Linked DNA regions of Homo sapiens: all the other regions are linked to region 4. Evidence: fine-mapped expression QTL. A gene starts in region 4. Each other region holds a variant in brackets. All regions are shown on one strand. Distances are from middle to middle.

Region 1 (8,104 bases), 37 kb after region 4:
GCTCACAGAAAGGCTGGTTATGACTTGCAGTCATTTAAGTGCAGATGGAGAATAGTTGATATCTTCCTCCTATGATTAATTCTCCCCAAACTTTTCTTTTGACTCTTGATGAAATATTCTCAATGAATTTTTCTTTTTATATCCAATTCTTAGTCCTTCCAGCAATTTTATCATCAAAATCTGTTAATTTTCTATCTCTCCTTGCTGTGGGCTGAATGTTGTGTCTTCCCAAAATTCATTTGTTAAAATCCTAAACCCCAAGTATAATGGTATGAGGAGGTGGGGTCTTTAAGAGGTGATCAGGTCATGAAGGTAGAGCCCTCACAAACTGATTTAGTGCCATTATAAAAAAGGCCCCCAAGAGACCCTCGCCTCTTCTCCCATGTGAGGATACAGAAAAGACAGTGTCGATGAACCAGGAAGGAGGGTCCTCACCAGGCACTGAATCTGCCAGCACTTTTATCTTGAACTTCCCAGCCTCAGAACAGGGAAAAATTAATTTCTATTGTTTATGAGTTATCCGGGTTATGGTATTTTGCTATAGCAGCCCAATAGACTAAGACTCTCCCTGTATAATGTAAGTTCTATGAAAGTAACGACTTTGTCTATTTTGTTCCTTGCTCTATCTTCAGCATCTAGTACAGTGCCTGGCAATAAATATTTGTTCAACAAATGTATGAGCCCATTTTCTATGGGCTTCATTAGGCTGAGATGGGGATGGGAACTAATGTTTAAAATGGGTTCCTATTACAAACAATGAAACAAACATCTCAAGCTCTCCTTCCTACTCACTTTTGTAGGAACTCCATCCCCTCCAGGTCTCTCCTGCTTGTTTCTGAGCATTCCTGGAGATGTTTTCGGTGTGCTCAGGAACAAGTGCTAAAGATGTGGCTACCGCACTGGAAACCTCAACAAGCTAAGGAGGTTCTGTGTTCTCCGAAGCCCTCTGTGCATCACAGCCATGGCTGTAAGCCATGAAGAAAGGGAAAGAGCACCTCCTTCTCGCCTTGTATAACCTCTTGTCACACAGGCACCAAAGCAGTATGACACTGTGCTTTGTAGTTGGAGGTTTTGTAATGAAAATACTTCCCATATTTACTTACATGTCTTATTTCCTCTGGATCCAGACATGAGTACAGGAAGAGCTCATCTGAGGACAAGGAGCAGTATTCAGACTCTCTCCTTCCTCCCTGCTGGACACCAAGACATTCAGATTAGCTGAACTTAGTAGGCCACCTCTTCCTTAGGCTGAGGCACTCCCGTGAGGCTATTCAGTGCCCTCTGCAAAGGAGTCTACTCTCTTAGCCCACTAACCATTACCAGGCTGTCTAGATTCCAACAGTGACCATGTTCAACCTTGAGCTTGAAAGCCACTACAAAATCCTTTCTTATAAATAGAGCTTTGGGTTGGCATAGAAATTTGGCATGTACCTGACCAAGCCTGTGTCTATGTCATTGGTATTTTATGTCCTATTCTAGGGCTTGTATGTGTCCAGGAAGTCTAGTGAATTCGACCATGAATCCAGACATGGCCAGTGGCTAAATCCTGTGGGAAGACACTGTGCTTCTCTCTGACCCATGAACACTCTGCTAGTCAAGCTCTCTGTCACAAAGACAACTTGAAGAGACAGAGTGGACCTCACAGAAGATACCATCGTCACTCTTACCAATGCAACTGTGGTGAACAGGACCACTATTATTCCTTAGATCAAAAGGACAGCACATTCAACAGCATCCTCATGGCATGCCAGCAATTTGCATAGGATGTTCACAATTAAACTTTGATTATCTAGTGCTTTGTGGATGTATTATGTATTACAGAAATCTATTTGCAACATGGAGGCACATTTTCTCTTTTGTTTGTTCACTTGTTTATCTGAAAATCAACAAATGGTTATAGAATGCCTACTATGTGCCAGGGACTTCTGGTCACAGCCTCAAACAAAAGAGATTCTTCTGTATTCTATTCTTCTGTAGCTTACCATAAATAAGAGCATTCCATAGGTAAGAAAACAGTTAAATAGTAAGATAATTTCACATAATCATAACTTTGGGCCTGATGTGGTGGCTCATGCTTGTAATCCCAGCACTTGGGAGACCAAAATGGGAGGACCACTTGAGCCCGGGAGTTCAAGACAAGCCCTAGCAACATAGTGAGACCCCCACAACAACAAAAATGAAAAAATTAGCTAAGAATGGTGGTGCACACCTGTAGTCCCAGCTACTCTGGAGGCTGAGGCGGGCGGATTGATTGAGCCTGGGAGGTGAAGGTTATGAGCCCAGGAGGTGAAGGTGAAGGTTATTGCTTGAGCCCAGGAGGTGAAGCTAAGATGGTGCCAATGCACTCCAGCCTGGGCAACAGAGCAAGATCCTGTCTCAAAAAAAAAAATTAAAAGCTAAATTTTATGAAAAAATTATAAAAAACAAATTTGATGAAAAAAATTACGCAGAACAATCTAACACAAAAGGTGGCTGGGATTTGCTGGCCTGTGTCATTCACATCCCCCTTGTCCCTTGCAGTTTCTAGAGTACATGCCAGAAAGGTGAAATGCTTGTTTCCCCAACCTCCCTTACTGCTAAGAGAGTAGCAGCCTGACACAAATCCATGGCTCCAAACAAAATACCCTGAGGAGCACTTTCCTGCCCAATAAAATGCAGAGCCAGAGCCACATAAGAAAAGACTTTGATCCTTTAAACTCTCCCTTCTCCTTGTTTGAAACAAAGATATAATACCCAGAGGCACAGCAGCTATCTTGCAATCATGGAGTGATCATCATATGGAAGAATGTCATGATGTTAATGACTACCGCAGAGTAGGAAGCAAGAAGGAGGCTGCATCCCTGCTGTCACTATTGAGCCCTGCAGAGCCTTCACCTAACTACCCTGGACATCTTCATCAGTTTGAGACAAATAAGGCTCCATCCATTTAGGCCTTTGTTAAGTTTGTTCTTATTTGCAGCCAAACACTTTACTAACTACTAGAGAGATGTACAGCTGTGGGTCAGAAGCCACTTTAGGCCGGTCGTGGTGCCTCACGACTGTAATCCCAGCACTTTGGGGGCTGAGGTGGGCAGATCACGAGGTCACGAGTTCGAGGCCAGCCTGGCCAGCATAGTGAAACCCCGTCTCTACTAAAAATACAAAAATTAGCTGGGCATGGTGGCACGTGCCTGTAATCCCAGCTACTCAGGAGGCTGAAGTAGGAGAATAGCTTGAACCCGGGAGGCAGAGGTTGCCGTGAGCCGAGATCACGCCATTGCACTCCAGCCTGGGAGACAGAGCGAGCCTCTAGCTCAAAAGAAAAAAAAAAAGCTACTTTAACCAATGTGATTATGGAAGTCTTCTCTGAGGAGATGACATTTTAGTTGAGACCTAAATGATAAAAAGCAGCCAGCCATGTAAAGATCTGGGGAAAAGAATTTCAGGCACAAAGAATAGCAAGTGCGAAGGCCCTTAGACAGAAATAGGTCAGCCATGTTCAAGGAACAGAGAAGATGTGCCTGAAGCACCATGAATGAGGGGGATTTCAACCATGGTGAAGGCCCTAGAGGGAGGGGGATGGACCTTGGGGAACCCTCTACACCTACCTAAAACTCTGAATTTTATTTTAATACCAAGGAGGAGATTTGAGATAGATAGATTTGAGATATGTTTTGGCAGTAAACCCTTCAACAGGACTCATTGGTGGAGCAAATGTAGAATAAGGGAGATACAGGTGACTCCTGGATCTTTGTTCTGAAAAACTGTGTGGAAGATGGAGCCACTGCATGAGTGGGGAAGAATGTAGGAGGTCCAGGTTGGGAAAAGGAAGGGAATGCTGAATCAATTGTATTTTATGTGATGTCTGAGATGCCCATTACAATTCCAAGTGGCAGTGTCATATGGGAAGCTGGATACATGAATCTGAAGCTCCAGGGAGAAATGAGGGCTGGAGACAGACATTTGGAACCATCCACATACAGATGCCATTTAAGTCATGGGTCTGGATGTGATTTCCTGGCTGGAGAATATAGATAAAGAAGTTGAGGCCAGGTGCAGTGGCTCATTCCTGTAATCCCAGCACTTTGGGAGGCTGAGTGGGGAGGACTGCTTGAAGCCAGCAGCTGGAGACCAGCCTGGGCAATATAGTGAGATGCTGTCTCTACAAAAAATAAATAATAATTAGCTGGGTGTGGTGGTGCATACCTGTAGTCCCAGCTACTCCTGAGGCTGAGGCAGGAGGAGAGCTTGAGCCCAAGAGTTCAAGACTGCAATGAGCCATGATCATACCACTATCTTCCAGCCCAGGAGACAGAGCAAGAACCTGTCTCAAAAAAAAAATATATATATATATATATATGTTGAGGCCTGGGATACTTTGATACTTCAACATTTAGACTTAGAACAGAGGTAACAGAACTAGCAAAGGGGACAAAGAAGGAGCATCCAGGGAAGTAAAACAAAATCAGGGAGTTTTGAGAAGAAGCTTTAAGAAAGAGGGAGTGATTGGCTCTGTTGAATGATGCTATGAGGTTAAAAAAAAAGGAAACAGGAAAGAGCTGTTGGATTGAACTTGTTGGGTGTATTTGGTTATCTTGCTAAGAGCAGTTTCAGAAGAGAGGAGAAGCAGAAGTCTCATTTTTCTGGGATCAAGACCAAACGGGAGATGAGGAAAGGAAGTACAGACATCTCTTCAGTACAGAGTAATTTC[A/G]CTATGAAGGGAAGCAAGAAAAATGGGGCAGCAGCTGCAGGGTGCTTGGGTTAATAGAGGATTTGGGGAGAGTTTTTAGTTAGAGGACAGATCCCACAGCACTTGTCTACACAGTAACATAAGTTGTGCAGAGTAAAGCAGAGGGTTTGATATTGATTGAGCTCCTACTGCATATTAGACACTTTACAAATTCCCATTAATTCCTCTCAACAAGCCTGTGAGGTGGGAATTTTTATCCTCTTTATAGAAATGAAGGAGGCAATATAATATATTGGTTAGTACTTCAGGTTTGAGTACAACTAAGTCAGAGCTCACAGCTTGTTAATTGTGTGACCTTGACCAGTTACTTAACTCTCTTTGCCTCACTTTCTTCATCTGAAAACTGGGAATAAAAACAGTACTTACCTCACACGATTGCTATGAGGATTAAATAAAATAATCCATCTAAAACAGGTAGCACAAGACCTCACATATAGTAATTGCTCAATAAATATTAGTTCTTTTTAGAGATGAGGAAAGAGAACCTCAGAGGTTATGTCCATTTATTTAACAAATATGTTGAGCTTCTACTTTTTACTAAGTACTGTGTGAGGCCAGAGAGTACAGCAATGAAAAAATAAATATCATTGTCTTCATAGAACTTAGAATCCATAATAATCATGGTCATGGTAATAACAATAAGAGTAAAACCAACAATCACTAACATGTACTATGTGCCAGGCCACAAAGGTATCATCGTTGTGAGCAACAAAAGCAGAATCTGCCTTGCTCCATTTTGTCTTTTTATTATGTCATCCTTCCCAGGGGTATCATTTTGCAAGCAGAAGGAAACCCAAGTCTAATGAAATAATCCTCTTGTATGAGGATGTGTGACTGAAAGGAAAACATTAGAGGTGAAGAATAACCTCTCTTGCTTTCTCCACTATTTCCCCAAGATCGTATGGGAAACAGATTTTAGGGATTACTTTTCTCTACTTCCTGACTTGTTTCCCCTTCCCTGGTTTCTTCCCAGGTTGTTTAATTAATTAAGGACACAAATGTGGCTGGCACCATGTTACATACTGTGTGCTATCAAAAATAAGTGTTGTAGGCTGAACTGTGACACCACCCCCAGCAAATTCATCTGCCAATGTCCTAACCTCCTAGTACCTCAGAATGTGACTGTATTTGGGAAAAAAGAGTTTTTTTGTTTTTGTTTTGTTTGTTTGTTTTTTGATATGGAGTCTCACTCTGTCACCCAAGCTGGAGTACAGTGGCGCAATCTTGGCTCACTGCAACCTTCGCCTCCTGGGTTCAAGGAATTCTCCTGCCTCACCCTCCTGAGTAGCTGGGATTACAGGCGTGCGCCACCATGCCCAGCTAATTTTTGTATTTTTAGTAGAGATGAAGTTTCACTATGCTGGCCAGGCTGTTCTTGAACTCCTGACCTCGTGATCTGCCCATCTCGTCCTCTCAAAGTGCTGGGATTACACGTGTGAGCCACCGAGCCTGGCCAAAAAGAGTCTTTAAAAAGATAGTTAAGTAAGACCGGGCACGGTGGCTCACCCCTGTATTCCCAGCACTTTGGGAGGCCGAGGTGGGCGAACTCCTGAGGTCAGGAGTTCGAGACCAGGCTGGCCAACATGGGGAAACCCTGTCTCTACTAAAAATACAAAAATTAGCTGGGCATGGTGGCTGGCACCTATAATCCCAGCTACTTGGGAGGCTGAGGCAGGAGAATCACTTGAACTCGGGAGGTGGAGGTTGCAGCAAGTCAAGATCACACCACTGTACTCCACCCTGGGCAACAGAGCCAGACTCTGTCTCAAAAAAAAAAAAAAAAAGATAGTTTAGTGAAAATGAGGTCATACAGGTGTGCCCTAATCCCGTCTGACTGTGTGCTTATAAGAAGAGGTGATTAGGACACAGGCAAACACAAAGGGAAGATGATGTGAAGACGCAGGGAGAAGACGGCCATCTGTAGCCAAGGAGAGAGGCCACGGGAGAAAACAGCCCTGCCAACACCTTAATCTCAGATTTGTAGCCTCCAGAACTGTGAAAAAATTAATTTTTGCCACCCAGCCTGTGGTCCTTTGTGATGGCTGCTCTAGCACACTACTATACAAGTAAAACAGACCCTTGGCCTGCGAGATGTCACAGGGATGTGGAGGACATGGGACACGCTTATGACTAACTGCCGAGCAAGACAGGGCAAAGACAGCACCACGTGAGAAGCACTAAGGTTAAATTCCCTAAGTACCAGGGTTAAAGAGACCATTCACGTCGGCGGAGGTGGACAGTCAGGAGAGATCTGAGGAAGAAGGCAATTGTAAACTGGGATGAGAATGACTCACTGGGACCTACTGGGTATCAGATGGGAGATAAGGGCGTTCCAGAGAGATGGAATGAATCCTTTTTTATTTTTGTCTATTATTAGTTCACTCTCTTTGCACCTCCTCTTATGTATTAACCTTACCAGAATCTAATCAAATTATCATTCTGTTATTATTTCATTATTATGTTGATTAAGAAGCAAAAGTATCATTATCCCCATTTTTCAGATGAGGAGGCTGGGGCACAGAGAGGGAGGTAACTTGTCCAAGGCTGTACATCTAGCAAGGTGGACAGCCGGATGCACGCCCGGGTGGTTCTCCCTCATTGATCCTGTAACTGAGACCAAGTGTGGTCAAGCAGCGGGTGGACATAGATTGAGGCTGTGTGGAGCAAACGGTGCACAACAAGCAAGTGCAGCTCCTTTTTCAAGACACATAGGCAGAATGAAAAGGACAGAACTAGCACAGCAGCCTGAGAAGAAAGGGAAGGTGAAGGAAGTTGCTTTTATCTTTGAAGAGGGGGAAGATTAGAAATTGTAAGTGAAGGTCGGGCGCGGTGACTCACACCTGTAATGCCAGCACTTCGGGAGGCCAAGGCAGGTGGATCATGAGGTCACGAGTTCAAGACCAGCCTGGCCAAAATGGTGAAATCCCATCCCTACTAAAAATACAAAAATTAGCCGGGCGTGGTGGCAGGTGCCCGTAATCCCAGCTACTCAGGAGGCTGAGGCAGGGAATTGCTTGAACCTGGGAGGGAGAGGTTGCAGTGAGCCAAGACTGTGCCACTGCACTCCAGCCTGGGCAACAGAGCGAGACTCCATTTCAAAAAAAAGAAAAAAGAAAGAAAGAAAAAAGAAATTATAAGTAGGTCAAAGGGAGGAAGGAGGAAAGTAGTGAAGACAGGAAAGAAGATAGTTGGCAAAGAAAGGTCATGGAGGAGAGTAGAGGCCTAGGATTTAGTGCCTGCTTAGGGCGGGGAGAGTTTGGGGCAGTGAGGTCAGCATTGGAAAGAATGCAGGACGCCTTCGGATGTGAAAGTGTAGGAGGGCTAAAGGGAAGAGATTAGGAGATGCAGGTGCTGCAACACCGAAGGCCGCAGGCC
Region 2 (8,104 bases), 79 kb after region 4:
CTAAGCAAGTCCCCAATCCCATTCTTCCTGAATGGGTGAGACCTCCCAACCAGGGTCTCCAGCCACCTCCTGCAGGTGTGTTCAGGCTGGCAACAGGTCCATACCCCCTGGGATGGAGCTCCCAGAGGAAGGAGAAGGCTGCCATCTTTGCCGTTTTGCAGCCTTCACCGGTGATACCTCCAGGTACTGGAAAATCTGAGGTGACTGGCGACTGGAGTGAACCCCCAGCAAACTGCACCAGCCCTATAGAAAAGTGGCTAGACTGTTAAAAGAAAAAAAGCCCCATCTGAAGGTCAACAACCTCAAAGATTTAAGGTAGATAAGCCCACAAAGGTGAGAAAGAATCAGTGCAAGAATGCTAAAAACTCAAAAAGCCAGAATGCCCTCTCTCCTCCAGATGACTGCATCACCTCTCCAGCAAGGGTTCAGAACAGGGCTGAGGCTGAGATGGCTGAAATGACAAAAATAGAATTCAGAATATGAATAAATATGAACTTTATTGAGCTAAAGGAGCATGCTGTAACCCAATGCAAGGAAGCTAAAAAACGTGATAAAACAGTGCAGGAGCTGATACACAAAATAGCCAGTATAGAGAAGAATGTAACTCACCTGATAGGGCTGAAAAACACCTTACAAGAATTTCATAATGCAATTGCAAGTATTAATAGAAAAACAGACCAAGTAGAGGAAAGAATCTCAGAGCTTGAAGACTGTCTTTCTGAAATAAGACAGGCAACAAGAATAGAGAAAAAAGAATGAAAAGGAATGAACAAAACCTCCAAGAAATATGGGACTATGTAAAAAGACCAAATCTACAACTGATTGGTGTACCTGAAAGAGATGAGGAGAACGGAACCAATTTCGAAAACGTATTTCAGGATATTATCCATGAGGATTCCCCAACCTAGCTAGACAGGCCGACATTGAAATTCAGGAAATCCAGAGAACCCCAGTAAGATACTCCATTAGGAGATTATCCCTGAGACACATAATTATCAGATTCCTCAAGGTCAAAATGAAAGAAAAACTGTTAAGGGCAGCCAGAGAGAAAGGCCAGGTCACCTACAAAGGGAAGCCCATCAGACTAACAGTGGACCTCTCAGCAGAAACCCTGCAAGCTAGAAGAGATTGGGGCCCAATATTCAACATTCCTAAAGAAAAGAAATTCCAACACAGAATTTCATAGCCACCAAAACCAAGCTTCATGAGCAAAGGAGAAATAAGGTCCTTTTTAGACAAGCAAGTGCTGAGGGTATTCTTTATCATCAGACCTGCCTTACAAGAGCTCCTGCAGGAAGCACTAAATATGGAAAGGAAAAACTGTTACCAGCCACTACAAAACCACACTGAAGTACATAGACCAGTGACACTATAAAGCAACCACATAACCAAGTCTGCAAAATAACCGGCTAGCATCATGACGACAGGATCAAATCCACACATAACAATACTACTAACCTTAAATGTGAATGGGCTAAATGCCTTCAATTAAAAGACACAGAATGGCAAGCCGGATAAAGAACCAAGACCCATTGGCATGCTGTCTTCAAGAAACCCATCTCACATGCAATGACACACATAGTTTCAAAATAAAAGAATGGAAGAAAATTTACCAAGCAAATGGAAAACAGAAAAAAGCAGGAGTTGCAATCCTAGTTGACAAAAGCAGACTTTAACAGAAAAAAAGCAGGGGTTGTACTCCTAGTCTGACAAAACAGACATTAAACCAACAAAGATCAAAAAAGACAAAAAAGGGCATTATATATAATGGTAAAGGGTTCAATTCAACAAAAAAGAGCAAACCATCCTAGATATATATGTACCCAACACAGGAGCACACAGATTAATAAAGCAAGTTCTTATAAACATTCAAAGAGACTTAGACTCCCACACAATAATAGTGGGAGACTTTAACATCCCACTGACAATATTAGACAGATCACTGAGACAGAAAATTAACAAAGAAATTCAAGACCTGAACTCAGCTTTGGATCAAACGGACCTGATAGATATCCATACAATTCTCCACCCTAAAACAACAGAATTTACATTCTTCTCATCACTACATGACCCTTCTTTAAAATCAATCACATAATCGGAAGTAAAACACTCCTCAGCAAATGCAAAAGAACTGAAATCATAACAGTCTCTTAGACCACAGCACAATCAAATTAGAACTCAAGACTAAGGAATTCACTGAAAACCATACAGTTACATGGAAATTGAATAACCCACTCCTGATTGACTGATATGGTTTGGCTGTGTCACCACCCAAATCTCATCTTTAATTGTAGTTCCCATAATCCCTACATGACATGGGAGGGACCCGGTGGGAGATAATTGAATCATGGGGGCAGTTACTCCCCTGCTGTTGTTCTTGTGATAGTAAGTGAGTTCACCATGAGATCTGATAGCTTTATAAGGTGCTTTCCCCCCTTTTGCTTGGCACTTCTCCTTGCTGCCACCATATGAAGGATATGTTTGCTTCCCCTTCCACCATGATTGTAAGTTTCCTGAGGACTCCCCAGCCATATTGAACTGAGTCAATTAAACCTCTTTTCTTTATAAATTACTCAGTCTTGGGTGGGTATTTCCAAATAGCAATGTGAGAACAGACTAATAAGATGACATTTTCTTTTTTGAGACAGAGTCTTGCCCTGTTGGTGAGACTAGAGTGCAGCGGTGTGATCTCAGCTCACTGTAACCTCTGCCTCCTGGGTTAAAGTGATTCTTGTGCCTCAGCTTCCCAAGTAGCTGGGACTACAGGCACGTGCCACCACACCCAGCTAATTTTTGTATTTTTAGTAAAGACAGGGTTTCACCATGTTTGCCAGGCTGGTCTTGAACTCCTGACCTCAAGTGATCCACCTGCCTCAGCCTCACAAAGTGCTGGGATTATAGACACAAACCACTGCACCCAGCCTACACGATTACTTTTGAGTAAATAATGAAATTAAGGCAGAAATCAAGAAGTTCTTTGAAACTAATGAGAGCAAAGATACAACAGACTAGAATCTCTGGGACACAGCTAATGCAGTGTTAAGAGGGAAATTTATAACACGAAATGCCCACATCAAAAAGTTAGAAAGATCTCAAGTTAACAACCTAACATCACAACTAAAAGAACTAGAGAACCAACAACAAACAAATCCCAAAGCTAGCAGAAGACAAGAAATAAGTAAAATCAGAGCTGAACTGAAGGAGATAGACACACATAAACACACACACACACACACACACACACACACACACACACACACACACAAACACATCATTAAAAAGATCAACAAATCCAGGAGTGATTTTTGAAAAAAAATAATAAAATAGACCACTAGCTAGAATAATAAAAAAAGAAAAGAGAGAAGATTCAAATAAACAATCAGAAATAAGGGGAATATTACCACTGACCCCACAGAAATACAAACAACCATCAGAGAATATTATGAACACCTCTATGCATGTAAACCAGAAAATCTAGAAGAAATGGATAAATTCCTACGCACA[T/C]ACACCCTCCCAAGACTGAACCAGGAAGAAATGTAATCGCTGAGCAGACCAGTAACAACTTCTGAAATTGAAGCAGTAATAAATAGCTCACCAACAAATAAAAGTCCAGGACCGGATGGATTCACAGCTGAATTGTACCAGATATACAAAGAAAAGCTGGTACCATTCCTACTGAAATGATTCCAAAAAATTGAGGAGGAGGGATACCTCCCTAACTCATTCCATAAGGCCAGCATCATCCTGATACCAAAACCTGGCAGAGATACAACAACAACAAAAACTTCAGGCCAACATCCTTGATGAACATTGATGCAAAAGTCCTCAACAAAACACTGGCAAACCAAATCCACCAGCACATCAAAAAGCTTATCTACCACGATCAAGTAGGCTTCACCCCTGGGATGCAAAGTTTGTTTGAAATACACAAATTAATACATGTGATTCATCACAGAAACAGAACTACAAAAGCCACATGATTATCTCAATAGATGAAGAAAAGGTTTTCAATAAAATTCAACATCCCTTCATGTTAAAAACTCTCAATAAACTAGGTATTGAAGGAACATACCTCATAATAATAAAAGCAATATATGACAAACCCACAGCCAATATCATACTGAATGGGCAAAAGCTGGAAGCATCCCCCTTGAAAACTGGCACAAGACAAGGATGCCCTCTGTCACCACTCCTATTCAGCATAGTATTGAAAGTTCTGGATAGAGCAATCGGGCTAAAGAAAGAAATAAAGGCATTCAAATAGGAAGAGAGGAAGTCAAACTATCCCTCTTTGCAGATGACATGATCCTATTATCTAGAAAACCCCCTCATTTCAGCCCAAAAGCTTTCTAAGCAGATAAGCAACTTTAGTAAAGTGTCAGGATACAAAATCAATGTGCAAAAATCACTAATGTTCCTATATACCAACAGTCAAGCCAAGAGCCAAATCACAAACCAATTCTCATTCACAATTGCCACAAAAATAATAAAATACCTGTATTGTAACAGTACAAGGGTGGTGAAAGATCTCTGCAAGGAGAACTACAAACCACTGCTCAAATGTATCAGAGATAACACAAATAAATGGAAAAACATTCCATGCTCATGGATAGAAAGAATCAATATTGCTAAAGTGGCCATACTGCCCAAAGCAATTTATAGATTCAATGCTATTCCCATTATACCACGGACATTCTTCATGGAATTAGAGAAAACTATTTTAAAATTTATATGGAACCAAAAAAGAGCCCAAATAGCCAAGGCAATCTTAAGCGAAAAGAACAAAGCTAGAGGCATCATGCTACCTGACTTCAAACTATACTATAGGGCTACAGTAACCAAAACAGCATGGTACTCGTATAAGAGCAGACACATAGACCAATGAAACAGAATAGAGAACCCAGAAATAAGATCACACACCTACAACTATCTGATCTTCAACAAACCTGACAAAAACCATCCTTATTGAAAGGATTCCCTATTCAATAAATGGTGCTGGGATAACTGGCTAGCCATATGTAGAAAATTGAAACTGGACGCCTTCCTTATACCATATACAAAAATTAATTCAAGATGGATTAAAGACTTAAATGTAAAACCCAAAACTATAAAAACCCTGGAAGACAACCTAGGTAATACCATTCAGGACATAGGCATGGGCTAAGATTTCATGATGAAGATGCCAAAAGCAATGGCAACAAAAGCAAAAATTGACAAATGGGATCTAATTAAACTAAAGAGCTTTTGCACAGCCAAATAAACTATCAACAGAGTGAATAGACAACCTACAGAATGGGAGAAAATTTTTGCAATCTATTCATCTGAGAGACTCTACAAGGAACTTAAATCCAGTTATATACTCTACAAGGAACTTATATTCAGACTCTACAGGAAACTTAATCTACATCTGACAGATTATTAGACCTATTTAGACAGAATAGATCTATTCAATCTATTCATCTGACAGACTCTACAAGGAACTTAAATCCAGTTATATACTCTACAAGGAACTTATATTCAGACTCTACAAGGAACTTACATTTAGAAGAAACAAACAACCCCATTAAAAAATGAACAAAGGACATGAACAGACACTTCTGAAAAGAAGACATTCATGCGGCCAACAAACATATGAGAAAGAGCTCAACATCATTGATTATTACAGAAATGCAAATCAAAACCACAATGAGATCTCACATCAGTCAGAACGGCTATTATTAAAAAGTCAAAAACTAACAGATGCTGGCAAGGTTGTGGAGAAAAAGGAATGTGTATACACTGTTTGTGGGAGTGTAAATTAGTTCAACCATTCTAGAAGACAGTTTGGTGATTCCTCAAAGACCTAAAGACAGAAATACCATTCAACCCAGCAATCCCATTACTGGGTATAACCGAAAGGAATATAAATCATTCTATTGTAAAGACACATGTATGCGTGTGTTCATTGCAGCACAATTCACAATAGCAAAGACATCGAATCAACCTAAATGTCCATCAATAATAGACTGGATAAAGAAAATGTACATATATGCCATGGAATACTATGCAGCCATTAAAAAGAAGGAGATCCTGTCCTTTGCAGGGACATGGATGGAGCTGGAGGCCATTATCCTTAGCAAACTAATGCAGGAACAGAAAACCAAATATGGCATGTTCTCACTTACAATTGGGAGCTAAATGATGAGAATCACATGGACACATGAAGAAGAAAACATACACTGGGGCCTATCAGAGGGTGGAAGGTGGGAGGAGGGAGAGGATCAGGAAAAACAACTAAAGGATACTAGGCTTCATACCTGGGTGATGAAATAATCTGTACAACAATCCCCCATGACACACGTTTACCTATGTAACAAACATGCACATTCTGCACATGTACCCATGAACTTAAAAGTTTTTTTAAACAAGATAATAGGTAAAAACCAAACACAAAGTAGTTTTTCTTTCCAATTCTCATATCATAAAGCAGAAAGCCCTTTCTCCTTTATGAAACAGAAAAGTACTCATAGTCAGTAAAGAATGTTCACAGCAAATTTGAAATGCCCACAAGGCACAAGAGTGCCTTTTATTTCCAGGAGGTTTTGTATGAGTAAAGGCTGGAAAAAGCCATAAATCCAGCTCTTTGTTGACCAAGTACCCTGCAACGTTGTATCTCTGAATCCAGAGACAGAGAACTCATGTGTCCTAAAAGGCACTGATTCTCAGAAAAGATGGAGTCAGGAAGGATTGTTTCTTCTGCATCTGAGATGAAAATAGAGCTAGAACAGGCAAGGTTAACTGATGGTTGAATTTCAGGGAGATATCAAATTGTATCTTTTTCTTGATACCTTATTCTAAATTGAGCTACTTTCTTATAAATGTCTGTAATTTGCAATTAGTAATTATCCAATTGTAATTGCTGATCTCTATGAGCTATGAACAAGTGCCCTGGAAGGCCTGCCCTCCTTATCTTCATCACTTCTCCATTTAGTTCTCCCCACTGCACTCTTGCTTCCTCTACCACCCATTCCACTGACGTTGCCCTCACTGCAGCCACAGCAATTAGGCCAATGGCTCTAAAAGGGTGGTCTGTGCACCCAAAACGGGGTGGGAATGAGAGGCGAGAGCCAGATCCTTTCAGAGTCTGCACACAGAAAAAGTGTCTTAGAGGAACTCAAGACTATGCATGCCAAAGAAAAAATTTTGAATGACTTTAAACATTTTAGATTAATATCTTCTAAGAGTTTTAAAAAAATCACATCTGAGAAATAGAAGCAAAATGATATAAAATAACAACAAAAAGAAACATCCAAAAAGCAAAAATGTGCCTTTTGAAATTAAATAAATATGAAGTTATTTAGCTTGATTTAGCCATTCCACAATGCATACATATATCAAAACCATCATGTTGTATACCATAAATATATATAATTTTTATTTCCCAAGTTAAAAATAAAAAAGTTTGAATTTAAAAGTTTAAAACATGTGAAATTAAAAACTGTGTAGAAAGTTTAGACGTTAAAGCTATAAAAATCTCCCAGAATAATACAAAAATTAAAAAAGATGGAAAAGGCAGGGAGTGGGGAGAGAAGACAATTAAGGATCAATCCAGGAGGTACAATATGTGAAAATTTAAGTTCTAGAATAAAAGAACTTCAGAAGAAAGGAAAGAAAATAATCAAAGAAAGAGTTCAACAAAATTTATCTGAGTTTCTGGTTGAGAAAGGCCTCTAAGTGCCAGCACAATGAATGAAAATAAATCCACAAGAAAACATATCACAGTTAAATTTTAGACTGAGGACAAAGATTTTACAAATGGCAATGTGGAGAAACAGTTCTTGTAATAATGATTACAGATCAGAATGACTTCAAACTTCTCAATAGGAACAAGGCAAGCAACCCAAAACAATAAATGGAGTGATGACCTCTAAATTCCAAAAGAAAATTATTTCTCACCTAGAACTGCATACCTTGTCAAAATAACAAGAAAATATTAAATAGAATAAAGCTTTCCTTAAAAAAAAAACACATGTATTATGAACTGAATGTCTGTGTCTACCCAAAATTCATATGTTGAAGTCCTAACACCCCTAGTGTGGCTATATTTGGAGACAAGGCCTCTAAG
Region 3 (8,104 bases), 61 kb after region 4:
TACTATTTAATGTAAATAATCACCACACCCAACTTCCCAGTTCATCTGCTTTGGGAAATCAACTCATCAACACTGGATTTTCTTTTCTTTTCTTTTTTTGAGATGGAGTTTCCGCTCTTGTTGCCCAGGCTAGAATGCAATGGCGTAATCTTGGCTCACTGCAACCTCTGTCTCCTGGGTTGAAGCAATTCTCATGCCTCAGCCTCCCAAGTAGCTGGGATTACAGGTGTGTGCCACCACACCCAGCAAATTTTGTATTTTTAGTAGAGACAGGGTTTCACCATGTTAGCCAGGCTGGTCTTGAACTCCTGACCTTGTGATCCACCTGCCTTGGCCTCCCAAAGTGCTGGGATTACAGGCATGAGCCACCGTGCCTGGTCTGATTTTTGTATTTTTTTGTGGAGACAGGATTTTGCCATGTTGCCCAGGCTGGTCTTGAACTCCTGAGCTCAAGCAATCTGCCTGCTTTGGCCTCCTAAAGTGCTGGGATTACAGACATGAGCCACCGCGCCGGCCTAACACTGGATTTGTTTAAGGCAAAACATGCCTGTAATTTGCATCCAAACATCAACTCCAGAAAGGGAAACTATGGGATTCTGTTATCTTTGTTATTGTTTAAGATGTATTATGACAACCACCTTTCCCCCAAGAACCTTCCCTACCTGGCAGAAAGGGGTTTGTACCCACAGGCCAGTGTACATTCTTCCCAATGTGATGGATGCAAATCTTGCTCTATATCTACCTACCTTTCTTACCCAAGAGGTTTATCAAGCCTGAACCCTGTAAACTCTTTAAGGTTCTCATTTATGCTCTTTCTTTTCATTAATACGTCCTCCCAGAGCACCACTTTGGGACTACAAATTCTGGGACAGAGGTATTAACAGAATAGATCCATCCAAGGGAGAGCCATACGCTAGCCGCAGCATAGCCATGTCAAGCAGCGACCCTGTGGGCATACCCTGCCTGCTCGTGTGTGTCCTCTCCCAGTTACTGTTTACGTTGAGTTACATGAGTCAAGCAGCCAGGCTCCATGTGGCAAAGTATACAGTAGACAGCGCATTGTATTTTGCAGAGCCTGTGATTGAGGGAAACCAATGCTCCCTCTTAAAATTACCTTTGCAAAATATTTAATATAAAACAGTACTTCTTAAGTCTGGAGGAGTCTTGGAAACTTGAAAATCAGCAGATCTGTCCAACAGAATACACAGGGCTCTCTTCCTGGGGCTGGAGGAAATATACACAATTTTTACATATAAATTTTTCATCCCATTTCAGAGGACTCAGACTCCCTGCAGGTTTTTTTTTTTTTTTTTTTTTTTGAGACCAAGTTTCACTCTTGTTGCCCAGGCTGGAGTGCAGTGGTGCGATCTTGGCTCACTGCAACCTCCACCTCCTGGGTTCAAGCGATTCTCCTGCCTCAGCCTTCCAGAGTAGCTGGGATTACAGGCATGTGCCACCATGCCCGGGTACTTTTGTATTTTTAGTAGAGATAGGGTTTCTCCATGTTGGTCAGGCTGGTCTCGAACTCCTGACCTCAGATGATCCGCCTGCCTCGTCCTCCTGAAGTGCTGGGATTACAGGGATGAGCCACCGCGCCCGGCCCTCCCTGCAGTTTTTCCACACACTCTTTTGGGTATCCACCTAATCTAGGGGAATCTAAAACAGCACCTAAATTCTCATCTCATCCAGATTCTAGTGGTCTCTTTTTTTCAGTCATGAGAAATCCAATGAAGTGGTGAGCTCCTAAGAATTCAAACATTGAGTCAGATCCCACAGTGTGAACTCTGTCTCTGCTCTGGGTGTCTCTGTCTGTTACGGGGGGGTGATCATTCATCCTACCAGGAATATCCTGGCAGGTTTCCTCAGGCCCAGGCATTGTACAAAACTCCAGAAGCTGCTCAGTCTGAGAAGCGGAGCGCTATGCAGAAAGCCCCCGGCATCGTCACAACATGGGACCTTTAGTGGGCAGTTGTTTGAGGTCATTTTCTCATCAGTAGCAGCAGGCTCAAAATGGATGTGCAATGCAAACCAGGAGACTAGGGAGCACCGAGCAGCCTCAGGGGTTGTTTTCTGCCTGGTTCAAGAGAAACTGCCGTAGAAATTTTTGCCGCCAGCCTGTTGTTGAGTGACAGGAAGAGAAAAAAGGATCATTTGAAGGCTCCCTGATTCAAATGGCGTATACAGAATGCCAGGCCCTGGCTGCCCTGGAGAAAGCCACTCTGGTGCCAGCTTAGGGAACAAATGTGTTCCCACTGTCTCCTGGAAAGGCTTTCCCCACCCCTGCTGAGGGGGTGGATTTCAAAGCAGCTGACTTCTTGCCCTTTTTAATAGGACTGCAAGTGTTCCCATTTTAATTCTAAAACTTTCTCCCAATTTTCCACTCCTCCAAGGCCTCCCAAGAAAAGCTGGTATTCTGGGTCACTGAAATGGCGTCAGGTTATTAAGCAGAGAAAGGGGATTAGAGGAACAGTTCCTAGCAGCAGCAGCGAACACAGTTACGGTATTGAGAGCTTGCGTTGCATGTTAATAAAATGCTATAAAACATCAAACCCTAAAGGTAGCAGTGAAAGCCACGTAAGTCCTTTCCGGAGTTTGCCTTCTGCAGCTGTGGATCTAAAAGTTCCCTGCCTTTCCTGTACTTTCATAATCACGCTTTTCCTCCTTTAGAGAGACACGCAGCCTCACTCCCAAACCATGGTGTGTTTTAAATGCTGACCACCCCATCTTTCCCTGGCACCATGGAGCGTTTCAGTCTAAAACCCTAGGGTCTGCGAATTCTGGCCAGTGCGCTGGGGAGAGGTAGTAGAGTAATTAAGTTAGCTGTTAGCTGCTGTGAGCGGACTTCGGTATTTCATCGCAGCTGCCTGCCTCTGTCTCCCCAGCCGCCCTCCCACATCTTCCTATGAGACCGGCTGTGTGTGTGAAGGAGGTGCTGTTTCCCACAGCTCTGATCTAATTCAGCTGAAATTCAATCTCCGTGTGACCAACCTCAGCCAGCGCTCTCCCACCCACCGCCGGCCTCCCCTCTGCAGGCTGTGTGTGCTGCCCATTTACACCATCAATCCCACAGCCTCCCCTCCACCAGCCCCTGGGTATAGACTTACGGTGTCAGCGGGCCAGCCTTGGGGGCTCGCCTGCTGCCCGGACGCTCACCCCTCATCCCCAGTACTCCGAGGTGAGACACTCTATACCTGCCACTCGGTGGCCTGAATGGGGCCTGTGAGTCATCGCAGGAGAAAGGGCAGTGGGGCCAGCTGAGGCTGAGAACCCAAAACAGATGTCAGAGACATCAGGCCACGTTTTCCATGGATCTTCAGTGCCCAGAAAGATTTATGACCTCTTTTAACCCCCTTTTAACGTGGGTTGAACTGGGCTTGTCTTATAGGGGGGAAACAAGTCTGGCAGTCATTCAGAAAGTCACCAGAGCGACAGGGCCTGCCCTGGGTCTGTGGACCCTTGCTTCCTTTCTTTGTCATCCCTCTCTTAAGCTCCATCCCTTAGCCTCTGTGTTTGGTGGGGACATTCCATCACAGACTCATCAGAGCTCTCCATCCCTTGACAGCCCAAAGCTGCTTGTGGCTTTGACCCTAAATGGTATTCAATTTGGGTTTGCATCTTCATACTGAACAAGGAAATAATAAGTATCTTTTAGAAGAGCAGAGATTGCAGAAGGCCAGCACTGGCCAGTGATGCAGGGCCCTGGCTTTTTTTTTTTTTTTTTTTTTTCTGGTCTAATTGTTGCCTAATCATGTTATCCTGGATCAGGCGCACTTTCTTTTGACTAAGAAAGCTTTGAACTTTGCTTTGCACTTCCTGCAAGAGGAGGATTTCTACCTCGGGGCAGAGAGGCACAGGAAGGCAGAGGTTTGCGGGTACCTTTTACAAGCCCTATGAAGCAAAAGGGAAGGGGTTTACAAAGGCATCATAATTAGAAATGATGTGTCAGGGCAGGCAGGCACCACCAGAATGTGACCCTGCCGGTCTCCTCCCAGGCTGCTGCAGGAACACGGGAAATTCAGCGTGGCTTCAGCACGGGCACTCAAGCCATTTTCCAATGCAAAGGATCCCAGTCTTCCAACCTTCCATTAGTTTTACTGCACAGATTGATAAGTGACAGGCAGGGTCACACCTTCATGCTTATTTTTTTTTAAGAGAATTATAATTTGCATGAAGAGATTCCTTTTTGCTAACAATCCACCCGCTCGCTTATCTTGATCTACAGATAAAAACAGGACAGTGGAGCTGGAAAGTGTTTCCCGCACCTCCCTCAGACTCCCAGACACTCAATTTGCATTCAGTCTCAGAGAGAGTTTAGAGCCTGCTGTGTCTCCTTTTTTTGGACAGTGGGTAGTTATGACCGGAATTAAAAGGAGAAAAGTCTCCAGCACTTAAAAAAATCA[A/T]CCAACTTTTTTTATGAACTTCTGCTAACAGTTAGGCTGTGTCACGGAGGGAGGTGTCCTGGGAGGGAACCTCACCCCTCCCTAGAGAAGAGGAAGCTTCCCGCAGCCAACCTCAGAAATAATCGTCTCCCTGAGTCCTGAGAAAACTGCCCCAAATGTTAACACATCAATCTTAAGGAAACGAGCCTGGCTTTTACCGACTTAATTTCATATAATTATTTCAGAGTTTAAGTCTTTACAAGAAAGAGGGAGTGGAGGGAAAGGATCAGAAAATTGAAGGGGATGAACAGAAGAGGAATGAGATTCCTTTGTTTTGAAGATTCCCATTTCTCTCCCAGTGTGCAGGGCATCTTTATCTGTGCTTTCGTCTCTCAGGAGCAAATGCACAGCACACTCAACAGCATGTGGAGAAGCTTGGAAGGCGCTGATTTCGGCTCAAGTCCGTTTTTAAAGGACACTTTAATAAAGCATCCTCTTGTGTCTTGGATCTTAGAACACCAAATGTACAGTGAAATGAGGTCAGAAGACCTGTGTGCCAGTCCTGACTCCTGACCACTAAGTTATGATGTAGTTGGCACAAGTCATTAAGCTTCGGGGACTTTATTACATCTCTAAAATGGAGGTAATGAGACCTCCCCTGCCCCCCTCTGGGGGGTTATATATAGGAAAATAGGAAAACACTTTGAAAAGTTAAAAATGCTGCTATACAGTCAAAAGTTATTATTCTTACAATAATAAAGTTCATTATGAGTATTCTGTAAGTACATTTTTAAATTTAATTTTTTTACATAGAAACAGGTTCTCACTATGTTGCCCAAGCTGGTCTCAACCTCCTGAGCTCAAGCGATCCTCCTGCCTTGGCCTCCCAAATAGCTGGGATTACAGGCATGATCCATGATGCCCAGCCTGTAAGCAGTTTATTATCAGTATTCACATAAGAGCCAGCAGCATAGGATTTGTTAAGTAAGGAAAAAGCTCGGACACCATCTAGTCCAATCAGTTTTAAATGCATCCATTTAAAATGTAAATGACAAAGCCTCATCCTCCAGAAATATTGATTCCATAGGTATAGATTAGCCCAGAAATCTGGATTTTAGATCACCACCTTGGGATATTCAGAGATAGAATCCAACAACCTGACTTTGAGCAACGTTGTTTTGCAAAACGAGGACATTTCTCATTCTCCTACTCCCTGGCCATATCCTTCCTCCCACTGGGGCTGGGTGTGAGAATAGAGCACATTACTTTCACATCTCTTCATTAATATTTCAGAATCTACAATGTGAAGGACTGGGAAGAAACAAAGCAGAATCGGGGATTATGTTGATGGGTTTGGTTTCCCTTTAATGATGAGAAAAAATGCATGTCTGCTCTGAGCAGATGATAAATTGATCCAGAAAATGTTGCACAAGTGTTCTTTGCTAAGCTTCAGGGTCAAAGTCAACAATATAAAAGAAAATATACCTCCGTTTAGTTGAAAAGGACTTACGTTCAAGGCATTGCACAACAGGTCTGGTGTGGGTTACACTCTGTCAAATGGCCCTGTTCATTTATTCAGCTTTCCACAGATCTTTGCCAAAGAGGACAATGAGAGAAAGAGACAGATTTAGCTGTTGTGGTTGCAGTTTGTTTTTGCACCTGGTGGGTTTTTTTTTTAAATGACAATAGTTTGAGAATATCACGACAACATTTTTAAAGATAATGAAATCATTTGTATGTGAAGTTGGGATAATGAAATGACAAGCCTCTCATAAAAGGAATCTCCTTTTAGTAACCATTGCCTATACTTGCATTAAGTGAAAAAAAAAAAAAAAATGAACCGAGGAAGAACTTTCTAGAAAGATAGATAGCTCCTAGAAATCTGGGAGCTTTTCATCATTATTAAACTCATTTGTCTTGCAACTTTCTATTCCTAAAATGAGCAAAAAATTTAACAAAAGCAGTCTCTGGAAAACCAAAACAGAGAACTCATAACATATTCCATTTACTCATAGGAAACTCTCAGGTACCTCCTCAAACCTCTCTACACACAGTTCTAATGCACATCTGCATGCACACACGTGTAAGTGTGTGTCTATATTGGTCTTCTATGCTCACAGTAAACACTGAACATCAGAAAATTAGGGTAGAAGAATTTCTGGAAATAGGTGCATTGATAACCAGAGTGATTGGTCAATGGACTGATGAAAAGCAGGGAGACGAGAGTATATTTAAAAGTTTTCAAAATAACTTCAGAATCTGAAAATTTGGGACCCTTTATGTGCCCTATTGCATTGCAGCAGAGTAACAAAATCTTGTTCACTGTCATGATCCCAAGGCATCAAGAAAAAAATTAAATTTCATCCATTTTCTCTGTTTAAGAAGGTACTAAACAATGTATTTTGGAAAGATTTTCATCAAAAATGTTTAAAATTAAAAAGTCCATGCTGAAAGAGACAAATCCTTATGTTTCCAGAACTCTCATTTACTCAAAAATCTTTTTTCCCAAAGTTTCTGAATAAGCAAAGTTTGTCTAAGGAGCAAAGATTGGGAGAGAGGAGGAGTGGGAGGAGGAACAGCTGTTCTGAATTAAGAAGCATGTTAATGACAGCACAGGAGTCAGAAAGATGCTCGGGTTCGCCTGCTGGTCTAAGAGGCAATGTATTAAACTGTCTAATAAAAACAATTGTTCTAGGCCTGTGATAATGGACATGAGGAGAAAGATTTGGAAGACAGCATTGACGAATGAAGTATCTGTGGCATAAAACCACTCTCTCCTGCGCCCTCAGTCCAAGGCTGTTATCAGAAGTAGGTGACACTGCACAGGCACGGGGTGACGAGGGGCGTGCTGGAAATGGCCCAGTCTAACTCACTCACATTTTGGCTTCACAGGGAGCATTTTCTGAGAGGGTCGATCACCTGAACTGCAAATGGGCCAGGGCAGGAACAAGAGGGGAGAAAAGGGGATGCTTTCAACAGGAAGATTAATGATAAACACGAAATAGCATGATGACTGTGAAGGTTTCAGGCACCGGAGATGCTAAGAAAAAAGAAAACAGAAAGTCTTTTTATCTTTACAGTGGTTCCTATAAAGGGGTCAGCAGGTCGTGGTAGAAACTATCAGTTAATTATCTCTAGGTCAGCAGCATGCCTCTAGTCAGAGAGCCCAGCCCCCTTGCAAGGAGACCCTGAGCTCACTGATGCCGACCAGGAAAGGCCAGGGGTGGGGGGAGGAAACTTCTGAGCAGGAGACAGAAGCTGCACCAAGCCCCTCATCCTGCTTGCCTCTCACCCCTGAATCTACATCCCATAGACACTGAAAACGTTCCCCAAACCTGCCACTGACTAGGGAGCTCTGTCTGAATACAAATAGGACCGAGACTAAAGTGTCCCTATTTTAGAAATGGAGAGATACTCTAGGAACACAATCAGAATCAAAAACTGCTGTCTCCAGAGCCTAAACCTGACCTTGACTTCAGCCTTCACCTTCTCCCTGGCCACTTGACAAGACGTAGTCACATTTAGGACACGGAAAATATGTAAACCCTTCAAAAAGTTTTTAAATCCTGTGTCATGTCATCTAATTTGTGCTGTAGATAAGAAATATAAATACACATGCATTATTATGATTTTTTAAAAAGGCAGAAATCCTAGGTATCAACAACTTCCTAAACATAAATGACTCCTAAATCCAGCTCTTTCCTCAGCCCTGGACTTGGATTTCC
Region 4 (8,104 bases):
TACAAACCAATCAGGCAAAATGAAAACCAAGGAAAGTTTATCTTTTCTTAGCCAAGAGGGGGAAAGGCCAAGGTATGTAAGACATACACCACAGAATACTTTGTTCTTTCTTTTTTATTTAGTCACAACACATCAGTACAACAGAGGTCAAACCCAGTTCAGTGGAGGTCGTTTAACTACACCTGCTAAAAGAATAAACCTGAAAAATGATATTTTATAGCCCAAATCAAATTAAATAAATCAAAGAGAAGGAGGCAGGAAAGCCCTTTTAAATACCTTGGCAACCACAGTTCCATGCACCAAAAGGAAAACTCACATAAAAATTTCCAGTTAAAAGAAAATATGGCAGTCCCAGGAAAATTAGGTTATGCATTTAACAGTTTCCACTGTACTACTCAATTGACCACTCGCACACCATGATCACTTATCCATGTTAACATTTGTGAATTTGAGATCCGTGTGATTAAAAATTCTTTGTGTTGCTGGGGCTGGTAAATGCAGGCGTATTCTATTCAATTACCTTCAGTTTCCTTTCCACCAACACTCCAAATGAGACCTAACCTATCAGCGGCTCTCTCCTAACTAAATCAGAACTGCCAGTCCTGGCAGATACCAGCAGCTGGTCAGATGGATTCAGGGCCACCAACAGTTTGTACATTCACCTTTCTGCTATAGGAGGCAGACAATTTACTAGTCTTCTTTCTTGGATAAAGCTGATCATCTGATTTGTCAACGCTTTGCTCAGAAATATAAAATTCAATATAGTTCCCCTCCCCCCAAAAGAATATTATTTATACAACACCTTAATCTGTCAAAATATTAACAAACAGAATCATGTTAACATTAAGCATAGTGGTTTGGAAAATTAATTCTAAAAACAGACCATAACTATACAAGGAGAAAAACAGACCAAAAATACTAAATGTTAAGATTCCCCAAATTTTGAGGCAAAAACGGAATCATTCTGGTTTACAAAGTAAATTAGGCACAGTACAAACCTATCACAAAGTGTTGGCTTATACTCACTATTTCAATTTAATGTCTTGAACAAAATTTAACAACTAGTTTTTAAAAACTGCTAATACATGACATGATGAAAAAAACATTAAAAAAGATAAAAGTAAACCAACAAACCTTTAGTCTTTAAAAAAAAAATTATCTGAAAGTGTACCTTTTTCCTTTTTACTTTTACTGACGACTTTAAGGTGATGTTGGCAACAGTCCAGCCCAGCTGGGATTTTAAACTTTCCCCTCCCTCATTCTACATCAGTTCTTTAAAAAGCTCCGATCTCCGTCCCCCAAGGTCTATAGGGCTTGCCAAGGTTTGCAGCCTGCGTGGGTGCTGAAGGGCTCAGTGCATTGGGAGACAGTAAGTGGAAGGAGCCGAAAGAGAAGGGGAAGGCCGACAGGGAGGCCACTGAGGAGAGCAGAGGCGGCGACAGTTTGGAGGCGGAGGTGACCACAGGGAGCACCGGTCCGAGGCTGCCGCTAGGGGGCGCTCGCAAAGCAGGCGCCTCCGGATGTGCCGAGCCCAGCCTGCCCTGGTGGTGCGGTTCCGTGGGTGAGGCCGTGGTGCCCGCGTTCCCGTGGCCGTTCTGGGGCAGCAACAGCGGGTGCGCGATGTGCGGGTGATGTCCGAAGACGGTCCCCCAGGGAATGTGTCCGAGGCCCGCGTGGGCGCCGCTCGCGGCTTCCCGCTGGGAAGCGTAGTTGTTGAGATGCGAAACCAGTCGAACTCGAAGCGGGTCAGAGGCATCTAGTCCTTCAATGATGCTCAGATAACGCGCAACTTCTGCCAGGCATTCCCGAAATCCCAAACTCCGATAGTCCATAGCAAGGGCGTGCGCGTCAAAGTAACCTAAGCAAAAGAACAAAAGAAAAATCTCAGGGCTTTGCCCGTTTCCCTCATTTCTTAAGTCCCAGAGACAGCCCTTCCTGGCAGATACCTGCATCCCTTAAAACACAACAGTCAGGGGTTCTTCCGAAAGTCTTTGGAATCAACAAAAATCTTTGCATTAATCAACATAAGCAGAATGTGTTTGCTAATGCAAGTTCAAAGCCCAATTAGAAGCTGCAGAGCAGAAATTGGAATTATACCCTACCAGCAGATGAAACTATGTTCATTCCTTTAATGTTTTCCCTCAACAACAACAAAAAATACATCAAGGGCAGAGAAACCACAGAGCAGTGAAATTCATTAGACACACAGATGTAAGTTATCATCGCGGAGCTTTTAGGCACTTGGACCTCAGTAAAGCATTTTCCTGCTGGAGAGACATACACACAGACCTTGGTCTCCCGTTAGGTTTCCTTTACTTAACCAGAATACATTTCTTTCCTCAAGAGGCATGTGGCAGCACCTTTTTTTTAAAATCCCGTATACCAAAAATAAGACCACATATTGTTTTTAAATGCTTTTTCTCAAAATAGCAATGGACAAATGTGAAAGCTACCTGATCTGAATCAGGGCTGTCACAACTTTTGAAGACCTCACAAATAATAGGTATTTTTCCAAAAGATGCACTAGCTCAATCCGCAGAGAGCTGGGGTGGTGAATTCACTGGAGAAGATTCTATGTGCATTCGAAAATGTACTGACAGGGAACTGCACACACCACACACCGTTCTCTCCCCACCCCCAAAGAAAAATCAGGCAGCTACTGCACCAATCCTGGCCTTCAGCCGCTGCTCACTCTTTGCCAACCATTCAGAGCCCCCACTAGGTCTAGGAGATGTACCTTTCCCTCCTGCCGTATGCAGCATTTTCAGGTGATCCACGGTCATCTGCAGGATCTCGGCTTTTTCTAGCTTAGCAGATCCCTAAAGATGAGAATGGCAAAAGATTGATTTGGCACAAGTTCCTTTGGGGAACAATTTAAAATATGCAAACATATATACAAAGATACATGCTTTGTAAATCGTAAAGCATGGACTAAAGCAAAATCAGTTGTCTTCACAAAATACGCTGGTATCTGTGTACGAATTCATCTAGGCACAAGCAACACAGCTATTTTCCAAGGCGGATGAGATTAATGAGGGGAAGATTCAGAAGGTGCAGATAGCTATGCTGAGAGCTTTACCTACTTGCTCCATTACCTGCTTCTCAAAAGCACTGGGTACCAGCCTTCTCAGCTCAGACAAACTGTTATTGATCCGGTCTCGTCGGCGCTTCTCAATTATCTGCAGAAGGCAAGCAAAACAAAGGAAGGCATTACCATTACGACTGTAAATTTCAAAGACAAAAAAAAAGGTGGTTATTTCCGTTAATCAATAACAAAAATAAAAGGAGAGTGTAAAGAGACTCACTCCTCTCCGTCTTTTTCTGGCCAAAATCTGGGAAGATGTAGTTGGGGACATGGAACCTAGAGCCGAACTCAAGTTTCTGAAAAGAGAAAAAGAACAAACAAAAACTGAAATCGCCGTTAAACGAGGAGAGGTGATCTGAGAGGTCGCCCCCACACCCTCCCCGCACTCAGACTTTTTTTGCCACTTGGGCTGGAAGGCACCTAGGGGTTCCCTGGCCGCAGGCTGCCGCCAGCCTGCGACGCGCGGAGGTCAGCGCAGGGCACCGGCGCGCCAAGGGTCCTAGCCCGCTGTCACCGCGGCAGGCCTGCGCTCGCCTCCCGCTCTGGCTCGGCTCCGCTCCGCCGCCGCCAGCTCACCCATTCTCGTCCGCACTCTCCTTCTCCACCTCGATGGTCTCGTCCAGCTCGCTGTCCGAGGAGCTGTACTCGGGGTGAGCTCGCTTCATGCTGGCTCCCTGGGGGTTCCTGGGGAGGGTCGGCGCGGCGGGCAGGGAGGAGTTAACTACAGCGGCGCCTCTCCGCTCTCGGCTGCTTGCGTTCCGCACACACTGATCCCGCTCACGCTTTGCCTCTGGTTAAAACTCAACCATCCTTTCCCACGCTGAGCCCCTTCCCAGGGCCCTGGGGAGGGCGGGGGAGTGGGGAAGGCGGGCGAGGGGGCGGAGAGGCGGGGCGGCAACTCCAGGGCAACAGCCGCCCCCCGGCCAATCCGGTTTCTCGCGCCGCTGATTGGCAGCCGCTCCGGGGAGGGGCGGGAGCGAGGCCGAGGGCTCTAGCGGACCGCGCCCCCGCCCTCCGCGCCCGCCCCTGCCCGGCGGCGGTGCGTCGGCTCCGCGGGGGCTCTGTCCAGCCTGCACTCAGGGGAAGGAGGAGGCGCGGGCGGCGGGGAGGCGCGGGAGGCCGGGCCGGGACACAAGCCCGCCGGCGGCCGCGGCTCCTCCCCGCCCCGCGCGCCCCGATTGGCCTGGCCGCGCGCCAGGGCCGAGCCTGCAGCGCCTCCGGTGAGCCGCACGCGCCGCGGGCCGTGGGAAAGTGCCGGCGCCGCGGCCGCCAGCCAATCCGGGCGGCCGGCGACGGCGACGGCGGCGGCCGCGCTGGCGGCGGCGGCGGCGGCGCTGGGCGTCCGCATGAATGGAGAAGAATGGGCAGGCGGGGAGCCGGGCCGCGCGAGGGCGCGCCGGCGGGGGCTGGGCGGCCGCCGGCCGGGCCCCCAGTGTGAACCTGTAATCGGAGCCTGGGCGCCGGCCGGCCTCGGAAGCCGCCGCCTAGCGCCACCGTAAATCTCGCCCGCGTGGCCGCCAGTGCCCGGCGGCTGGAGGCGCGCGCTGTTAGTGGGGCCGTGCCGGGTGCACCTGGCCGGGCTGCGCGCCGGCGGCTCCGCGGAACCCGCAGGGAGCCGGGAGAGGGGGCGCCGGGCGCGTCCACAGTGGCCACCAGCCCAGGGGCCGGTCACATGGAGGAGCAAGCTGTGGGCTCAGGGGACGCTCTTTTTGATTTCTGGGACCGAGGCCGCACATGCAGCCAGACTCGTTTCCGCAGGGGCTTCCCAGCCGCGGAATGGAATGAATACCCCTGTGCATCTCATTTCCGGGGAAGGGGAGCACTTGTTTTTTCGGCCGCCTTGGGGAAAAAAAAACCCAACGGTCCCTGGGAATAATCATTATGCTGGGATTTTTTTGTTGTTCCCCCGCTGCCCCCCCCCCCGCCCCCTCCCCCCGGCGGCCAGATCCTCTCAGCGGGCGACAGGGTGGCGGTGCTGGCGTTTGCGTCTGAGGCCGGCCTTGCTGAGGGAATGCACGTCTCTGGCCCCAGACACACACCTCTGGCTTCGGTGGCTTGGCGTGGCGTGTACTGGGTGCCACGTGAAGTCCCCCCCGAGTCCACTAAGAAGACAGATTTTTTAAAAAATACAGTTGTAAATCTCGAAACTGATTTCTGATTCCAGAAACAGAATGGTTGTTTTAAATTTGAAAATCCGGTCTTCTGTCCCTTACAAAGGTACACAGCAATTCGCATTCATCTCAGATCCACTCTGAAGCTTGTAGTCCTGTCTGTGAGGGAAAGCTTAATATCCATCGGTGAGAATAACAAAAGGCGTTTTCTCTTTGCAAAAAGCTTCCTGGTTTCTAGACTTCCTTATTGATCTCAATGCTATTTTTTTTTTGAGATGGTGTCTCACTCTGTCGCCCAGGCTGGAGTGCAGTGGCGCGATCTCGGCTCACTGCAACCTCCGCCTCCCGGGTTGAAGCAATTCTCCTGCCTCGGCCTCCCCAGAAGCTGGGATTACAGACGCGCGCCACCATGCTCAGCTAATTGTTTTTGGTATTTTTAGTAGAAACGAGGTTTCACCATGTTGGCCAGGCTTGTCTCAAACTCCTGACCAAAGGTGATCCGCCTGCCTTGGCCTCCCAAAGTACTGGGATTACAGGCCTAAGCCACCGCGCTCGGCCTCAATGCCATCTTAACACATCCTGGATGCCAAGCACTCTGAGTGGCCGGCCTGGGCCTAATCCATAGTTCCTCTCTGGGCACCCCCATCCCTCCACCACCGCCCCCAACGGGAAATACAACCTCCTGGCTCCCACTGAAGCTTATTCCACTTCACATCACCTCCAGCCCTGAGCCTTTCCATGCAGCCCCTCTGCTTCCCTGTCTAGGCTGGGCCCTTCCATCAGCCAGCCTGGGTTTGTTGCTGCTGGCACCCCAGACCTCTGGCTTCCTGAAACTCCACCGCATGCTGCCTGTTAGTTGTCAGTCCGAGGTCAATCCCACCAGCCGACTTTCTCTCTGGAAGTGCAAATTTTAAGGCTCCTTCCTGGCCCTCCCAGTCTTCAGTCCAGGGCATCCATCACTACTTCCTGCCTCTTCCCTCCCAGAAACTGATGGTCCAGGCATAGGAAACCATCCCACCTGCTCCCCTCTGCCTTCCAGAAGTCCCTCTGACCTTCCATTTCTTTCCCCAAAGTGACAGGCCACCCTTCCCCAGAACCAACGTGTCTACTTCCCCTCTGGCTCTATAGATTTTCCCAGCCTCTGGCACCTACAATGAGTCAGCCTTTCCTGCTTTGGCTCATTTCTGCTGCTGTGGAGAGGCGTGGACAAGCTGCAGATGTTGAGTGAGACGAGACCGGGTGGGGTTAGGGATGCTTAACTCTACATTGGCATCCAAATGAAATATTGCTCACATGTTCATGATTACTTTTATGTCAAAAAGGAGGTTCTCTACGGCCAGGCGCAGTGGCTCACACCTGTAATCCTAACACTTTGAGAGGCTGAGGCAGGAGGATTGCTTGAGTCCAGGAGCTCCAGATCAGCCTGGGCAACATAGCAAGATCCCCATTTCTTAAAAAAGAAAATTAAAAATTAGCCAGGCATGGCATGCACCTGTAGTCCTAGCTTCGTAGAAAGCTGAGGTGGGAGGTTTGCGTGAGGCCAGGAGTGCCAGACCAGACTGGGCAACACGGCAAGATCCCCATCTCTAGAAAAAATTTAAAAATGAACCGGGCATGGTGGCCTGTGTCCTAGCTACTCTGGGGGCCGAGGCTTGAGCCCAGGAGGTCAACGCTACAATGAGCTATGATCATTGCACAGCACTCCAGCCTGGGTAACAGAATGAGACTCTGTCTCTAAAAAAATTACAAATGAGGTTGTCTTGCTTCTTAAGTTTGACTGATTTTTCAATGCTTCCAATAAATACGTATTCTTCTATGTGCCATGTGCTGTGCTAGGGCCTGAAAACACAAAGGTGACCCAAAAGTCATCCATCTTGCACTCCTAGAACTCACATCCTAGGGAGAAGACAGAGAATACACAGTAAAGTAGTTATGGATGCTCCAGTGCTTGGAAGCACTTGTTGGTAAGGAAAAACGAGGGGGTGAGGATTCTTTATGAGGTCTGGGAAGGCCTGTTCTGAGTTTGGAAGGGACTTAAGATCAAGAAGAGGTGAACTAGGTGGTTCAGTAATAACCGGGAAGGAAGGGGCGGAGACCTCTTCCTTGAGTGGTGGGATCAGAGGAGAGAGTTACACTGAGGGCACCAGGCCCAATTTTCTCCCATCTGCTGTGTAGAAGGGATTTACCCCTGGAGGCTTTGAGTGAAGAACGACTTTAAACATCTTTGCTACCCTGAATGAAAGGTACGTCCTGCAAATTGACCCCTTCTGCAACTTAAATGGGACTGCCCAGGCCTGGCCCCTCAGGAAAAGGACCTTTTACCATTTGGGGGTGGGGAAGTGGGCAAGTGTTGCCTTTTATAATTCGTCTCTCCTGAAGAATCACCCTTTTTTATTTCGCTCAAAGGCCTATTTTCTTGCCTGGTTTGTAGAGTCTGGGTTCAGTTACTTAGCTTACCGTTCCGCAGGCTGCTTTTATCTGCGTTCCCTTGCAGAAGAGATACTCCAGATGTCCTGGAAGAGAGAGACACTCCAGATTTAGGAATTCACTCGAAAGGCCAGGCCCAGGTGAGGGCCTCCCCAGAGGAAAAGTGGTAGAATCTCCAGGGAGGAACAGCTCATCCTCAAACTCCAGCTGCAGCATTTCTCTATGAACGAGGCTTAGGGTGGCCAGCTTGTTGGAAGGGATGCAACCAGTAGCTGGGTGTGAGACTGGCCTTGAGGAAGCCCCAGTCGTCAATTATTCATTCATTAGAGCTTTGGCCACTGTGGAGGTCCCTACTTGGATACCCTTCATGAGGCCCTGTCTCTGTCAGTTTGCTGGTGGGTGCAGGTGATCTCAATTGAACAGGCATGGGACATAGTGCTCAGGAGGACCAGAGGCTACACCTGCAGCTCTGAGAAAGAAG

What was found.
Region 1: its variant is fine-mapped to the expression of HEY1 in whole blood (TOPMed, PIP above 0.99).
Region 2: its variant is fine-mapped to the expression of HEY1 in whole blood (INTERVAL, PIP above 0.99).
Region 3: its variant is fine-mapped to the expression of HEY1 in whole blood (TOPMed, PIP above 0.99).

Annotation. Positions count from the first base shown.
Region 1 is chr8:79,801,008-79,809,111 of GRCh38, forward strand. It overlaps LINC01607 (long intergenic non-protein coding RNA 1607), which reads left to right. Exons shown (of 4, transcript NR_125410.1): 4 at 1,480-1,835. It overlaps LOC101927040 (a long non-coding RNA gene), which reads right to left. Exons shown (of 6, transcript NR_110954.1): 4 at 1,104-1,190. Among named protein-coding and RNA genes, the nearest start is that of LINC01607, 37 kb to the left of the region's middle. The variant A/G (reference allele first, on the strand shown) is at 4,691.
Region 2 is chr8:79,842,992-79,851,095 of GRCh38, forward strand. The region is part of intron 2 of LOC101927040 (a long non-coding RNA gene); the gene reads right to left. Among named protein-coding and RNA genes, the nearest start is that of LINC01607, 79 kb to the left of the region's middle. The variant T/C (reference allele first, on the strand shown) is at 3,505.
Region 3 is chr8:79,824,612-79,832,715 of GRCh38, forward strand. The region is part of intron 2 of LOC101927040 (a long non-coding RNA gene); the gene reads right to left. Among named protein-coding and RNA genes, the nearest start is that of LINC01607, 61 kb to the left of the region's middle. The variant A/T (reference allele first, on the strand shown) is at 4,401.
Region 4 is chr8:79,763,914-79,772,017 of GRCh38, forward strand. It overlaps HEY1 (hes related family bHLH transcription factor with YRPW motif 1), which reads right to left and starts at 3,854. Exons shown (of 5, transcript NM_012258.4): 1 at 3,662-3,854; 2 at 3,306-3,381; 3 at 3,096-3,179; 4 at 2,738-2,819; 5 at 97-1,858. The coding sequence starts at 3,750. The coding sequence ends at 1,275. LINC01607 (long intergenic non-protein coding RNA 1607) reads left to right here and starts at 4,229. Exons shown (of 4, transcript NR_125410.1): 1 at 4,229-4,305. It overlaps LOC101927040 (a long non-coding RNA gene), which reads right to left. Exons shown (of 6, transcript NR_110954.1): 5 at 7,654-7,709; 6 at 5,459-7,092. RefSeq lists enhancers at 1,551-1,790, 3,377-3,426 and silencers at 3,877-4,356, 4,397-4,756, 4,857-5,026.